2 separate regions of the Homo sapiens genome follow, and region 2 is linked to region 1. The links come from fine-mapping of genetic effects on gene expression. Tissue or cell type: aorta. Region 1 holds a variant in brackets; the other region holds the start of a gene. All regions are shown on one strand. Distances are between the middles of the regions. Region 1 overlaps HDGFL3 (HDGF like 3). Region 2 holds the start of AP3B2 (adaptor related protein complex 3 subunit beta 2).

Region 1 (5,000 bases):
AACAATAATGTACACATAATAATGGTTTAAGGATGAATATTAACTATTCTAATTGTAGTTCCAAAAGAAAACAGTTTATTTTAAAAGTCTACATTTAAAAGTCAATGCTTTGTCTGGTTTCCCATAGGGCTGTTGCTGATTCCAGCTTTAAAATGTAAAGTATCCACCTTGAGTGCTTAGCTCAAAATTGTATTGGCACTGGGAAAAAAATAAATCATTGCCTTTATTTTGGAGTAACACAAAAAGACTCACTAACTTCACATATAGAAACTTAGTTTGTGTACATAACAATATGAATTTTGAGAAGTATAAGCTGTCAACTAGCTATTTCTAATACGGAATAGATATTTTACAATATGGTTAAACTTTACACATGGCCTCAAAACTGAAGGACAATTTTAATTTCGTCTTCAATATACCAACGTTATGTATTTAGGAATTAATTCCTGGGTTCTGTCACAGAGAGGAAATTCCATTCTTAAGCATTATGTTGAGTGGTCATCTAAAAAATGTTAATTTATATTTAACTGAGTGTTTGATGATGGTGGGGTCAAGGCAGGAAAACGATGATCATAACTGCCTTGATAAAAGGATCCTAGACATGTATAAGTCTGCGCAAAAATCTTGATAATCCTTAGTGGTTAAGGGCAACTTCATGCAACCAAATAACATGAAATTAAATCAGTAACTTTTAAAAAAGGCTAAAATGTCTTTTCCCCCCGAAACACAACAGAGAGGAATATGAATAATGTACATACAAACTGGGGTTCTGTCAATGACAACAAGGACTATGTGTTGGTTCATATCAAATCCAAGAATATTAGACAACCAAACATATAACCTTCTTGTGGTTTCTCTTAATATGCAGCATTCATTATGGTAGTTAGGTCTGTAAAAAAAAAAAAAAGAAAGAAAACAAGCCTTTAGATGATTTAGGATACTAACAATGAGAGCTATCCACACCTAGATAGTACATAATTGGGTTTTCTGAAATTTTAATATGCACTGCAGCATTAACAATACTTACTGAGCAAGAGCAGCTTCTGTGGCTTTGCTTTAGACCTGTCAGTGCAAAAAGTTAAAGGAAATCCTAGGGTATTTTTAGTGTCCCATAGAAAAAAATTATAAACCTTGTCTACTGTCTGTTAGGACAGAGTGCAGCAGTGCACATTCTACAATTCTAGGACTATGTTTATTGCTGGAATACATCATCAGTGGAGAAATTGATATAATCTATCTTTGTGAGGACATTCTTCAGAAAGAAAGGTAAGCTGTGTAAAATTTAAAAAGCACTTAGAGTGTGCACCAATTAATCTTCAGAATATTTATAACTTAATTACTTGTGACACATAGCTCAAACAAATGTAGAAGTTAATCATGATGTACAAAGTCTCTGACTTCTTGCTTTTAAAAAAAACATAAAGAATAAGAGGAAGCCTAGATTTCTTTTAAAATTTAGATGGCATCCGTGTGACAAACAGAAAATAAAACATTTGTTTCATAAAAGAATTATGTTTCTATTTGGGTCCCACTTTAAATTGTGTCTGGTTCTATTTCCCCAAAAGGATGCTATTTTTTCCCCCTCATCATTAACCCAAATATATTAAACCCCCTAGTAATACCCTCATGGGATGAATGAAAGAGGGAACTCAGCCCTCAAATATTTTTTCTGAAAACAGCCTGCTTCCACTCTTAATTTCACTAAATGAATGAACATGTTTGTAAGCACATGTGCACACTGATGGGTATGTTCTCATTCAGACAGCCCAACATGTATACTAAATGGTATATATTATAATAAACGATTCCAGGACCTTCAAAGGAGAGAGAGTTACCAAAACTTCCATCCCCCTAAGATGGCAGAAATATACTTTTTATCCTTCTGTCCCTATTAAAATGAGGAAGTAAATCTTTAAAAAAAAAGTTTGAAATTTGTGAACTTAAAAAA[T/C]GGAGTGCCTGGTGACTCCTAATTATTTCTTAACAAAAACACCAGTTATAAGATTATACTCACAGATACTTTGGAGGATCTTCCTCCCTTGTGAAGGAGGAAGACACCCATTAGAACAATGAAAAATTGTTAGTCAACCAAAGAAAGTTTTTTTTTTTTTTTTTTGAGACAGAGTCTCGCTCTGTCACCTAGGCTGGAGTACAGTGGCGTGATGTGAGCTCACTGCAACCTCCACCTCCCCGGTTCAAGTGATTCTCCTGCCTCAGCCTCCTGAGTAGCTGGGATTACAGGTGTGTGCTACCATGCCCGGCTAATTTTTGTATTTTTAGTAGAGATGGGATTTCACCACGTTGGTCAGGCTGGTCTCAAACTCCTGACCTTGTGATCTGCCTGGCTCGGCGGCCTCCCAAAGTGCTGGGATTACAGGCGTGAGCCACCGTGCCTGGCCGAAACCTTCTTTAACAATGTTTTCTTATTATTACTGTGAAAGGCAATAAATTCTATGTTTATCTTGGTAGAATAATCACAGTAAAAACTACTCAATCCACATCAAAGAATATTTTTGGAACAGGTGGTCCCATGGCAGCCTCAGAGTAGTATTAATACCCCAAACAAAGTGAAGGGAGCACCAAGAATGTGACTATAGTTTTAAGGACATGCTTTTTGTGGTCTTTAAACAAGGTGCTGTCAAATGGGTGCTTTGTAAAAGCAAATTACAAAATCTGAGATTAAAAAATTCTCATACCATAATCACTTTGCATCTATGTATTGAAAACTGCATCTTGCTAATTCATCATGGTATATATTCTGGACATGGTACTCTGACTGTCTCCTAGATCTGAAGTCTCCTCTGAGTAAGTAGCCACAAGTGGTTCCTTATGCACTGGTTGCCATGCACCCCTATATTAGATAATGGCTGAAGAATCCAATCGGATTCTCTCTGGAGGTATCTAAATGTGAGGCACACTGAGAGGCTATAGGGTGGTAGCAAAACTGAAGGATACCCAGAACACTGTAAGCAGAAGCTATGAAACAACAGAAGCCGTAAGGATCTTTTCAAGGAGTACCATTTTGATATGAAGGAATGATAATATTCAATATGGCTATGCAGACTGGGCAATTTGGCACGTTATAACAAATAAGTAACTTATTACTTGCAGAAAAACAACTGTTTTTTGCCAATGATAAAATTTGAGTGTTCAGTGAAAACTAGAATTTCAAATCCTCCATGACTGACAGTTTTCCAATATTTAAAGACTTTTTTTTTAGAGACAGGGTCTTGCTCTTGTGCCCATGCTAAGTGTAGCGGTGTGATCACAGCTCACTGCAGCCTTGAACTCCTGGCCTCAAGCTATCCTCCTGCCTCAGCCTATCAAAGTGCTGGGGTTACAGGTGTGAGCCACCAAACTTGGCCCCAATACTTAAAGACTTTTCTGATGAGATAGGTAGTGATATTAAAAATGTGATTAAAAACATTTTGTACTGAAATGAGTGAATATTTGGAAGACCCAAGTAATTCAGAAAACCTATATTTTCTAACTGGGGGAAAGCTATTCAGAGCGCTAGACAAACAGGCATATGAAGAAAAGCTCAGTATCGCTGATCATTAGAGAAATGCAAATCAAAACTGCAGTGACATACCATTTCACACAACTCAATGGCTATTACTAAAAAGTCAAAAAATAACAGATGCTGGCAAGGTTGCAGAGAAAAGGGAACGCTTATATGCTGTTGGTGGGAGTGTAAATTAGTTCAACCATTGTGGAAATCAGTAGGGCAATTCCTCAAAGAGCTAAAAATAGAACTACCATTCAACCCAGCAATCCCATTACTGCTTATATACCCAAAGTAATATAAATCATTCTACCATAAAGACACATGCATGAGAATGTTCACTGCAGCACTCGCTATATACAATAGTAAAGAAATGGAATCAACCTAAATGCCCATCAATGACAGATTGGATAAAGAAAATGTGGTACATATATACCATGGAATACTATGCAGCCATTAAAAAGAGTGAGAGCATGTCTTTTGTGGGAACATGCATAGAGCTAGAGGCCATTATCCTTAACAAACTAACACAGGAACAGAAAACCAGATACCGCGTGTTCTTGCTTATAAGTGGAAGCTAAATAATGAGAACTCATGGACACAAAGAGGGGAACAATGGACACTAGGGCCTACTGGAGGGTAAAGGAGAGGAGGAAGAGGATCAGAAAAAGTAACTATTGGATACTAGGCTTAGAACCCAGGGTAACAACAAACACCTGTGACATGAGTTAACCTTTAATAATAAATCTGCACATGTACTCCCTGAAGTTTAAAAAAAAAGCAAGACGATTAAGATACTCATATCACCATTTTTCAATTAAATATCTGTATAATACCAGATTTTCTTCATATACCTTCAACCACAATTACATATTACAATAAAGAGAATGCAGAAATAGATATGAGGATCTAGTTGTCTTCTATCAAATCAGACATTAAAAAGATTTGCAAAAATGTAAAAATGTCTTTCTGCAAACTTTTCTGTGAAATGTTATTTTCATAAAAATGCTATTTAAGTAATGGATTTATTATATTAAATGAATTAAGTATTTTTAAAATTTGTTTTTATTTCTAATTAAATAAATATCATTAACGATCACATATATAAACAAAGCTCTTTGGGGCCCTTAATAACTTTTTTTTTTGAGACGGAGTCTTGCTCTGTCACCCAGGCTGGAGTACAGTGGCACAATCTCAGCTCACTGCAATCTCCGCCTCCCAGGTTTAATCAATTCTGCCTCAGCTTCCTGAGTAGCTGGGATTACGGGCACATGCCACCACGCCCAGCTAATTTTGTATTTTTTGTAGAGATGGGGTTTCACCATGTTGGCCAGGCTGGTGTTGAACTCCTGACCTCAGGTGACCCACCCACCTTGGCCTCCCAAAGTGTTGAGATTACAGGCCCCTTAAAGGGGGCCAGGTGCAGTGACTCACGCCTGTAATCGAAGCACTTTGGGAGGTTGAGGCGGGCGAATCACTTGAGGTCTGGAGTTCGAGA
Region 2 (5,527 bases), 430 kb before region 1:
CCTGGGGATTTGCCTCTGCCCAGGACTGGCAAATTGACTTTACTCACATGCCCCGAGTCAGGAAACTAAAATACGTCTTGGTCTGGGTAGATACTTTCACTGGATGGGTAGAGGCCTTTCCCACAGGGTCTGAGAAGGCCACTGCGGTCATTTCTTCCCTTCTGTCAGACATAATTCCTCAGTTTGGCCTTCCCGCCTCTATATAGTCCAATAACAGACCAGCCTTTACTGGTCAAATCACCCAAGCAGTTTCTCAGGCTCCTGGTATTCAGTGAAACCTTCATACCCCTTACCATCCTCAATCTTCAGAAAAGGTAGAACGGACTAATGGTCTTTTAAAAACACACCTCACCAAGCTCAGCCACCAACTTAAAAAGGACTGACAATACTTTTACCACTTGCCCTTCTCAGAATTTGGGCCTGTCCTCGGAATGCTGCAGGGTACAGCCCATTCAAGCTCCTGTATAGATGCTCCTTTTTATTAGGCCCCAGTCTCATTCCAGACACCAGACCAACTTGGACTGTGCCCCAGAAAACTTGTCATCCCTACTATCTTCTGACTAGTCATACTCCTATTCACCATACTCAACTACTCATACATGCCCTGCTCTTGTTTACACTGCCGGTTTACACTGTTTCTCCAAACCATTACAGCTGATATCTCCTGGTGCTATCCCCAAACTGCCAGTCTTAACTCCCTCTTAAAGTAAATAAATAATCTTTGCTGGCAGGGCTATGCTGAACCTCCTTGGGCACTCTCTAATTGGATGTCCTGGGTCCTCCCAATTCTTAGTCCTTTAATACCTGTTTTTCTCCTTCTCTTATTCCATTTAGTTTTTCAATTCATACAAAACCGTATCCAGGCCATCACCAATAATCCTATACAACAAATGTTTCTTCTAACAACCCCACAATATCATCCCTTACCACAGAATCTGCCTTCAGCTTAATCTCTCCCACTCTAGGTTCCCACGCCACCCCAATCCCGCTCGAAGCAGCCCTTCAAGGCTATGGAGAAGCAGTATCTCTCCATACCACCCCCCGCCAAAATGTTTGCTGCCCCAACACTTCAACACTATTTTATGTTATTTTTCTTATTAATAAAAGAAGACAGGAATGTCAGGCCTCTGAGCCCAAGCTAAGCCATGATATCCCCTGTGACCTGCACGTATACATCCAGATGGCCTGAAGTAACTGAAGAGTGAAAATGGCCTGTGCCTGCCTTAACTGATGACATTATCTTGTGAAATTCCTTCTCCTGGCTCATCCTGGCTCAAAAGCTCCCCCACTGAGCACCTTGTGTCCCCCCACCGCCAGAGAACAACCCCCTTTGACTGTAATTTTCCACTACCTACCCAAATCCTGTAAAACGGTCCCACCCCATTTCCCTTCGCTGACTCTTTTTTCGGACTCAGCTGGCCTGCACCCAAGTGATTAAAAAGCTTTATTGTTCAAAGCCTGTTTGGTGGTCTCTTCACATGGACGTGCGTGAAAATCCTCATCTTCTCCCCCTGTCCCTCTAAACCCCCACCCAATATCCAATTAATCATCAGGTCTGAGGCTTCCACCTCTTCCACAGCCTCAAATCTTCTGCCTCTCCCCTGGTCTAGGCCACAATCATGCCAGGCCTGTGAACTTCAAGACCCACCTCCCTTGTCTCTTGTTCAATCTGGCCCACCTCCAATCTCTTCTCCACAATGCAGCAGCCTGACGTCCTTCTAAAATATAAATCTGATTATGTCGCCTGCTTAGAATCCTTCAGGAGTCCTCCCCACCCTCTTTTCTGGTCAGTCCAGTGGCTCACACAGATTGTGGCCTGGCTCTCAACCTTCCTGAAAGCCCTTTCCTCTGCCTGGAACATACCTCACGCTCCTGTCTTCCTTCTCTCCGGCGCCAGAGACTAGGTCCTCTCCCTGCTCCCACTGCCCCCATTACACTCGACTGTCCCTGACTGCTTCTTCATCTGTGCTCCCCTCTAGAGCATCGTGAGGACAAGAAGGGTCTCATGTTCACAGTTGTATTCCGTGACTAGTTCAGGACTCGACACAGTTGGCTTTTCATAAATGCTTGTTGCAGAATTTACGAATAAACAAATGAAGAAACAAACGAACGAATCAAAGGTGGGGGAGGGTGTGAAGGTGGAGCTGAACTACAGGGGCAATGCCAGGAGCAGGGATGTGAGGGTCAGATGGAGATGGGGACCAGAGGGAGGGGAAATGAATTTGCAGCAGGGCCAAGCTGGGAGGCTGTGCAAGTACATCCAGGGCCCGCCTTCCTGAAGAGGCCCCAGGCTCAAGCTCAAGTTCGCTGACTCAGACCCCTCCCCCACATTTTTGGGAAGCCAACCCGCCTAGCACGAAAAAGGAAGGGAACCCCTAACGCAACGCCGCAAACCGGAGAAACACCTGGAACCGGAGGGTTTCTCCTCTCGAAACTGAGCTGGCCCATCCCCCGCCAGCCCCTATCTGCCCCCCTCCGCGTCCTAGGCCGGCCCCTGGAGCCGGGGTGCCAGCGCTGCCCGCGCTGGGCCGGGGCTCCAGGCCGCAGGAGGGGGCCGGGCGGGCTTCCGGTCGGCGCGGCCGGGGCGGGGCCGGCGCTGGGGCCGGGCGCTGTCCATGGTGCCCGCGCGCCTCGCCCGGTCCCCGGCCCCAACCCTCCCGCGAGCTTCCTGGCGGGCTCCCTCACCGCTTGTAGTCGGAGGAGAAGATGCCGCCGCTCGCGGGGTCGTGGCCGTACTCGGGCTCCCCGGGGCCAGCGGAGCCGCCCTTGTCTTCGCTGTAGGCGGGGGCGGCCGACATGGGGCGGCCAGGGAGACTTCGCCGAGGAGGAGGTTGCGGGGCCGGAGGCCGGCTGGAGCGGAGGAAGGGAAGGCGGGCCGGTCCGGTCCGGGCTGGCGAAGGCGGCGGCGCGGCAGGGGTTCAGCAGAGGCTGCAGTGTGCAGCGGCGGAGGCTGCGCGCGGATTTCTCAATCAGGGCCGCGCGCTGAGGTCTTAAAGGCACCGGCGCCAGCCGAGCGGAGGGCGTGTCCGCGAGGAGGCGACAGGGGCGGTGCGTCAGGGCCTGGCCCCGCCCATCCCTAGGAAATGCCCTCTTCAGGGCGTCTTCTGCCCTTTAAAGCGACTTGGCTCGTCTCCAGATCTAAAGGTGGGCGAGTCTGCTGGACGGACGCTGGGACCGTCTTGCAGGGGATGTGGAATAGCTGCCCCCACCCCCGACCACCTGGCCTCGGCGGGACGGGCCTCTGGGGCTCCGCTCTCCCCAGACGCACGCGCGGATGCTCACCCACGCCGTGGAGGGAAAGCGGGAACTGGAAAGAAGGCTGTGCCCGCAGGCTGGGGGTTCTAGAGCGGGAAGGGGTCACCGCACCCGAGGACCGGCCTCAGATACCTAAGGACGCTCCCTTTCCCGCCCCACCTTTCCTACAAAATCTGGCTTGGCAGCAGGAAGCCGAGGAGCTTCCTGGAGGTGGCGGAATTTAAGGAATTAAGGTCAGGGAGCTCCGAGGAGCCCTTGGGGGCTTAGAGAGATGGGAAACAGGATACAGAGGACGGTGAACATCTAATTAAGCTTTGGAAAGTAGTTTAATGAATCTTTCTGAAGCCTCCACGTCCACCCAGGAGGGCCAAGGTCATGCTTAATCCGGGGACACGTCCACGTCCATTGACACCTGAAAAGGAAGAGAAGGGTCTGGTGTGACCACCAGGGCTCCTGAGTCATGTGAGCCCTCCAGTTCAGCTCCCGAGCCCGAGTGACCCCTAGGCCCAAGGAAGGAAGGCTTGGATCCGATGGAAAGTAGTGAATTGGGCTGGGGGAAGAGGTAGGATCCAGTTGGGCATCAGTTGAGGTGGCTGGAGTCTTTTAGCTGGGCATGGGGACTGGAGGAGTTCCTAAGGCCTGAGTCTTGGTCTGTAACTAGCATCCCGAAGTCTCCATGGGCAGAATTGGCGGGCCTACCTGGGAAGGAGTGGGGCCCAGAAAGGTGGAGCTTGGCTCAGTAGAAAAGTTCTATTGGGGGTAATTCTACTGGGGTAAGGTTCTATTGGGGTAATGAGAAGGTTCTGTTGGGATAACCTAGACAAGTGGGTGGGTCCGCTTGGTTCCGGTGGCTTTGTGCCTGCCAGAGAAAAGTGGATCTTGAATTTGGAGAAAACTGGCCTGGGTGGGGAGTGGGAAGAGAAGGGCCTGGATTTTGCAGTTGCGCGTTTATAAGGCGCTTTGGCTAGTCTGCTCAGGAGGTGGGATGGGTCCTGTGCAGGTAGCTGGGCCACGCTCACCGACCTGCTGGAGCTCCCGTCTATTTGCCGGGGGTCCAGGCTGGGACCTGGGACGAGCAGACACAGTGCAAAGTGCACACAGTTGCTGCGCATGGAGTGATAGGATGGTGGGTCCGCGTCCGTCGCTTCGCTCACTCTGCGCAGCACGCGCCAGCAGGAGCGCAGCAGCGGGCGCTGCCCCTGTTTGGATACGATGCCTTTCCAGGAGCCCAGAAACTTCCCAGGAGCCCACAGCCTCCTGAGTTCTTGCCTGCGGGGATCGCCAGAGGGGTGCGGATCAGAGCCAGGCTTAGGTCCTATGCCCTGTGATCCCGCACCCCCATTTCCTGAGACCTCAGGGACCCTGAGTGCCCAAACCCCATTTTCAGAGAAACGTACCCCCAGCCTGGGACTTCAGTCTTTATCCCCGAGTAGCCAGCTCACTGGTGGGGCGTGGCTTGGCTGGGCAGCCTCTCCGCAGACTTGGGCCTGTGTTTCTGCTGGAGGCACTCACCCTCAAAGTGGATGATCTCTCCATGGCCACAGTATATGCCAACGTGGGCCCCGCACCAGCGTCAGGTGGGGGGAATCAGCCTGAACAGGAAGACGTCTCCTGGCTCAGGCTCCCTGCCCTCCAACTACACAGCCTCGAAGTGTTGACCCAGGAAAGCCTCAGAGAGGAAGAACTTAATGGTGCTGACTGCCCCAGTCAGGGCCTGCATGGAGAAAGGGACCTGCCTTCCTGGCGTTTACACAGGCCTGGGATAGGGAGGAGGTGGGTCCTTCCAATGACCATAGGTCGGATGGTCTGCCCAGGGCTCAGGGAGACCTGTCTTGGGCTTGGGCCCAAGGCAGAATGTCTTCACTGCCACACACTTGCCTCCTTGTGCTTAAGGGACTCCAGAGGTCCAGATATCACAGATACATCCTGCCTCGAGCCCCTACTGAGAACCCTTCAGTTCCAGCAAATGGTGCCTCCTCCCCATCCAACTGTCTTCTCATCTCAAAGTCCAGCCATTCCATTCTCTCCTCCTCCCCCCTGCGCTAGGATCCCCTTCCCCAACCAGCTCCCATCTTGCCACTGCTCCTGAAGGCAACACCAGGGACTGGGTGGGTGTCAGCTGGTACCTGAGTTGAGCAGAAGACCTGAAAAAATCGGGAAACCTGGATGAGATTTGGACCTAGGACAAGCATCTCCTCCCAAGTCTGTGTGGAGAAGGACCTCTCCAGAAACCTCTGTTGAGCAGCTGCTCATTTGATCCTTAATACAATCA

The links. PIP is the estimated chance that this variant, and not a neighbour inherited with it, causes the effect.
Region 2: AP3B2 starts here. The variant in region 1 is the best candidate, but not a certain one, in a credible set for the expression of AP3B2 in aorta (GTEx, PIP 0.53).

What each region holds. Positions count from the first base shown.
Region 1 is chr15:83,138,387-83,143,386 of GRCh38, forward strand. HDGFL3 (HDGF like 3) reads right to left here. Exons shown (of 6, transcript NM_016073.4): 6 at 1-889. The coding sequence ends at 884. Among named protein-coding and RNA genes, the nearest start is that of TM6SF1, 33 kb to the left of the region's middle. The variant T/C (reference allele first, on the strand shown) is at 1,949.
Region 2 is chr15:82,706,909-82,712,435 of GRCh38, forward strand. AP3B2 (adaptor related protein complex 3 subunit beta 2) reads right to left here and starts at 2,967. Exons shown (of 27, transcript NM_001278512.2): 1 at 2,686-2,967. The coding sequence starts at 2,798. It also overlaps the pseudogene LOC338963. RefSeq lists silencers at 2,491-2,750, 2,971-3,020.